2 separate regions of the Homo sapiens genome follow, and region 2 is linked to region 1. The links come from fine-mapping of genetic effects on gene expression. A gene starts in region 1. The other region holds a variant in brackets. All regions are shown on one strand. Distances are from middle to middle.

What was found. PIP is the estimated chance that this variant, and not a neighbour inherited with it, causes the effect. A credible set is the group of variants that fine-mapping cannot tell apart.
Region 2: its variant is the best candidate, but not a certain one, in a credible set for the expression of FZD5 in nasal epithelium (TOPMed, PIP 0.57).

The regions. Positions count from the first base shown.
Region 1 is chr2:207,768,508-207,771,007 of GRCh38, reverse strand. FZD5 (frizzled class receptor 5) reads left to right here and starts at 1,102. Exons shown (of 2, transcript NM_003468.4): 1 at 1,102-1,743; 2 at 2,014-2,500. The coding sequence starts at 2,269. RefSeq lists enhancers at 1-37, 202-251 and silencers at 802-1,481, 1,822-1,881, 2,292-2,351.
Region 2 is chr2:207,677,659-207,680,601 of GRCh38, reverse strand. It overlaps LINC01857 (long intergenic non-protein coding RNA 1857), which reads right to left. Exons shown (of 4, transcript NR_135566.1): 4 at 1,480-2,060. It also overlaps the pseudogene RNU6-664P. Among named protein-coding and RNA genes, the nearest start is that of LINC01857, 17 kb to the right of the region's middle. The variant G/A (reference allele first, on the strand shown) is at 1,497.

The DNA.
Region 1 (2,500 bases):
GGAGGGGCGGCTACGATGGTGAGTGCCGCTGACCAACTACCTGGGTTCGAATCCCAGGGTTGCCATTTGGGCGGCTACTATGTGCCAGGTGATCGGAATACGGAGGTGAACTTGCTTGCCGAGGTCGCCCTTTCTTGGGGGAACTATGATTAGCTCGGTTGCCTTGGCCAAGTCTCAGTCTCGGTTTCTTCACCTGTAGGAAGTACCTGCCTCAGAATTGTTGTAAGGAGTGAGATCTTGTCTTAAGATGTAAACGGGCCGGGCGCGGTGGCTCACACCTGTAATCCCAGCATTTTGGGAGGCCGAGGCGGGCAGATCACGGTGTCAGGAGTTCGAGAACAGCCTTACATGGTGAAAGCCCGTCTCTACCAAAAATACAAAAATTAGCTGGGCGTGGTGGCGGGCGCCAGTAATCCCAGCTACGCAGGAGGCTGAGGCAGGATAATCGCTTGAACCCGGGAGACAGAGGTTGCAGTGAGCCGAGATCGCGCCACTGCACTCCAGCCTGGGAGACAGAACAACTCGTCTCAAAAAAAAAAAAAAAAAAAAAGGATGTAACCGATTAACACTTTGTTGGGCACACAGTAAAGGGCTCAGTAAGTATCCTCTCTTCTTTCACACAGTTCCAAGACAGCTCGGAAGGGAGACAGCCACGCCTAAGAGTGATTCCTTGAGCAGTTCTTTCAAAGAAGCACTGAACTCTGTAAGGACGCTTAGCTGCAGGCAGAAAGGGCAGGGGCCCTGGGAGCAAAGGTGCATAAGCCAGGAAGTTACAGGAGCGAGTCCTGCACCCAGGGCGCGGGCAGAGAACTCCGGAGGGACTTCTGGCAAGGGCTTCCCGCCCGGGTGCCCAGAGCGGCATGATTAGCATTCGCCCCGCCCCCATCTCCTCCAGGCCCGCGATTGGTCAGCGCTCCTTGGCTGCCCGCTCCTGGCGGGGCCAGAGGGCGCCGGGGGAAAGGCCGAGCCCGCGGGGCAGTGGGCGGGGACGCGCGGAGAGCTTGGCGAGGCGGCCCACCAACCGCGCCCGGGCCTGAGGGGGCGGAGCCGGGGCGGGGCTTCCCGGCGGGCATTAGAAGCAGGTGACCCGGGCGGGGCGGGAGAGGGCAGCCAGCCTGCGGCCGTGAGTCCGCTGTGGTCGCCGCCGCGCGCGGTTCCGTGCTCGCCAGAGGTGGGCGAAAGGGTGCGAGAGCGCGGGGGAGGAGCCGAGCAGGGCACGTCCCGAGAGCGTCGCCACCGCCCCCAGGAGTCCACTGGAGCGCGGAGCCCCCTGCAGGGGAGGAGGCGAGCGGCGGGCGGGACGCGGCGGCCGGCGCTCACCATGCAGTCCCGGCCTGGCCAGCGCCGGCTGCTCGCGGTGCTGTGAGGCGGCGGGGTCCCACGGCCCCCGCCTCCCGCCTTCCTCCCGCCCAGGTGCTGCCAGGCGCGCTCGCCCTCCGTCCGGCTCCCGGCCCCGGGGAGAACGCACGGCCTGCCCCTGCCCGGCTCCGTCTGGATCATGCGGGGGGCTCCCGAGGAGGAGAGGGCGAGTGACCGGCCTGCGCCGCCCCTGTTCTGGGGGCGCCCCCCACTCTGAGTCGCCCCCACCTGCTGCCATGTGCCGCTGCCACGGGTACCCAGCCTGTCGCTAAACTTTCCGGGCGCCAGCCCGGCTCTGAGTCGCGCTTCTCAGCGGAGTGACCCAGGGACGGAGGACCCAGGCTGGCTGGGGACTGTCTGCTCTTCTCGGCGGGATCCGTGGAGGTGAGAACCTTCCCTTTCTCCCTGTTCTTCTCCCGTTTCCTGTGCCCTTTTCCGGGAAGCTGAGGGTTCTGGTCTCCGGGCACTGCCTGAAGGGCCCAGCTTGGAAAGAGAGGGTGGGGGAGTCGGTAGTTTGGTTACAGGAGGCGGAGCGGGGAGGAAAGGAAAGGGGTTAACTTAAGAGATTTGGAGACAGCTCGCGGGGACCGAACTGTTGACGCCTCTCCAACAGGGAGTGGTTGCAATCTTTCTTCTCCCCCTTCTTTTTTAAAGAGTCCTTTCCCTGGAATCCGAGCCCTAACCGTCTCTCCCCAGCCCTATCCGGCGAGGAGCGGAGCGCTGCCAGCGGAGGCAGCGCCTTCCCGAAGCAGTTTATCTTTGGACGGTTTTCTTTAAAGGAAAAAGCAACCAACAGGTTGCCAGCCCCGGCGCCACACACGAGACGCCGGAGGGAGAAGCCCCGGCCCGGATTCCTCTGCCTGTGTGCGTCCCTCGCGGGCTGCTGGAGGCGAGGGGAGGGAGGGGGCGATGGCTCGGCCTGACCCATCCGCGCCGCCCTCGCTGTTGCTGCTGCTCCTAGCGCAGCTGGTGGGCCGGGCGGCCGCCGCGTCCAAGGCCCCGGTGTGCCAGGAAATCACGGTGCCCATGTGCCGCGGCATCGGCTACAACCTGACGCACATGCCCAACCAGTTCAACCACGACACGCAGGACGAGGCGGGCCTGGAGGTGCACCAGTTCTGGCCGCTGGTGGAGATCCAAT
Region 2 (2,943 bases), 91 kb after region 1:
ATGCAGAGAAGATTAGCATGTCCCCTGCATAAGGATGACATGCAAATTCATGAAGTGTTCCATATTTTAAAAATACCTATCAGGTACTACACTTAGTACCTGGGTAATGAAATATTCGTACACCAAATTCTCGTGACATGAGTTTACCTATATAACAAAACCGCATAATGAGCCCCTGAACCTAAAACAAAAGTTAAAAAAGAGAAAAAAAAAGAATATAATCTTTGGTTAAAAAGTGACTCCTACCTTGATTTTAAGAAAATTTTTATCATTTAGTTTAATTCCATTCAGGGATCATAAATAAATAGTCTAATTTTTTTAAAAAAATCGAGATAGAATTTACATAGCAGCATTCACTCTTTTAAAGTATAAATTTTTGTTGTTGTTGTTTGTTGTTTGTTTGTTTGAGGCAGAATCTTGCTCTGTCACCCAGGCTGGAGTGCAGTGGCATGATCTTGGCTCACTGCAACCTCCACCTCCCCAGTTCAAGTGATTCTCCTGCCTCAGCCTCCCGAGTAGCTGGGATTACAGGTGCCTGCAACCATGCCCGGCTAATTTTTGTATTTTTAGTAGAGACAGTGTTTCACCATGTTGGCGAGGCTGGTCTTGAACTCCTGACCTCAAGTGATCTGCCCGCCTCGGCCTCCCAAAGTGCTGGGATTACAGGCGTGAGCCACCACGCTTGGCCTGGAACCTCCCTTTCCAGTTTGAATTCCCTCATGTCTCCTACTCACACCTCTGTATTTCCAGCATTACCTCCTCCTTCTCCTCCAGTCTAAATCCCACCCATTTTACAAGTCCCACTTCAAATCACGAGTTTTTGATAAAGCCTTCCCAGGCTATCCAGCCCTCAGAGACAGCTTCCCAAATCTCATTGCATGTAGTAGTTGCACCTTTTGTTTGGCAAATATTCTGCCTTTCTGGCATATATATATGGCACATTGTAGGTGCTGCATGTATATTAAGTGAATGAATGAATCTCTACACCAGATTATAAGCAAATTGAAAGTCGTGGCCTATGCTATGTTCTAATCCAGGGCTGTAGCGTGGTTGAGGAGAGATATATGGCAATGATGAAAATATTTGAGAAGCTTAGGAGCCCCAGGGAGGGAGGAGCATTTCCCAGAGTCCTCTCTGTTTCCTTAGTTTAGAGCAACACCGATTTACCTTCTGGCTATGATCAAAATGTTTTTGTCCCCCAGAATTCATATATTAAAAACCTAATCCTCAAGGCGATGGATGGTATTAGCAGGTGGGCCCATTGGGAAGTGATTAGGTCATGAGAGGGGAGCCCTCATGAATGGAATTAGTGCCCTCATGAAAGAGGCCCCAGAGGGCTGCCTCTCCCCTTCTACCACGTGAGAACACGGAGAGAAGGTATTGCTCACTAACCAGAACACAGGCTCTCCATAGACACCACATCTGCTGGCGTCTTGATCAAAGACTTCCCAGCCTCCAGAACCATGAAGAAACACATCGTTGTTGTTTGTTTGTTT[G/A]TTTATTTATTTTTTGAGACAGAGTTTCACTCTTGTTGGCCAGGCTAGAGTGCAATGGCACTATCTGGGCTCACCGCAACCTCCACCTTCTGGGTTCAAGCGATTCTCCTGCCTCAGCCTCCCCAGTAGCTGGGATTACAGGCATGCGCCTCCATGCCTGGCTAATTTCTGTATTTTTAGTAAAGACAGGTTTCACCATGTTGGCCAGGCTGGTCTCGAACTCCTGACCTCAAGGCCTGGTGCAGCGGCTCACACCTGTAACCCCAGCACTTTGGGAGGCCAGGCAGGCAGATCACCCAGTCAATGTTATAGCAGCCCAAACAGACTGAGACACTCCTGCAAAAGCATGCCAAGAGCAAAGGGCCTTTTCTTCTTTTAGGGTCAGGATCAGGGATGGCCTTTAGTAACCATTTTGCCTTGGACCTTTCCTGTCCAACTTCTCATGCTCTCTTGATTTGACACCCAGATGTATGGCCAGCAGACTCCTACAGGGCCACTAACAGCTCCTCTGCAAAGTGCTCTGATAGCACAAAGGTGTCAGTTCTTCCTCTCAGCCACCACTGCCTGTGGAGAGAGGGACAGAAGTAACAAGTGAGAAGACCCCTCATACCTTCTCTCACTCTACCTCATGATGATATTCTTCAAAATCTGTGGGCTCCTTTAGTTTTAGCATCACTAGTATATTATAATATGGTATGTTATAATACAGCACAATATAGTATAGTGTAGTGTAGCATAGTATGATATAGTATATTCACCAATCTATTTTTTGTTCTTTTTTTTTTTTGAGAAGGAGTCTCGCTCTGTTGCCAGGCTGGAGTGCAGTGGCATAATCCTGGCTTACTGCAGCCTCCGCCTCCTGGGTTCAAGTGATTCTCCTGCCTCAGCCTCCTGAATAGCTGAGATTACAGGCACATGCCACCACACCTGGCTAATTTTTGTATTTTTAGTAGAGACGGGGTTTCACCATATTGGCCAGGATGGTCTCGATCTCTAGACCTTGTGATCCACCCGCCTTGGCCTCCTAAAGTGCTGGGATTACAGGTGTGAGCCACCACGCCCGGCCTTTTTTTCTTCATTTTTTTTAGGTTTCTGGAGGGATCCAGCTTCTATTACTCTTTCGTCCCGTAAGCTGGATACCACTATTTTATGTGTAATTCTATTTTTATTTATTTATTTATTTATTTTGAGATGGCGTCTTGCTCTGTCGCTCAGGCTGGAGTGCAGTGATGCGATCTCAGCTCACTGCAACCTCCGCCTGCCAGGTTCAAGCGATTCTCCTGCCTCAGCCTCCCAAGTAGCTGGGACTACAGGCACCTGCCACCACACCCAGCTAATTTTTGTATTTTTAATAAAGACAGGGTTTCACCATGTTGACCGGGCTGGTCTGGAATTCCTGACCTCATGATCCGCTCGCCTCGGCCTCCCAGAGTGCTGGGATTACAGG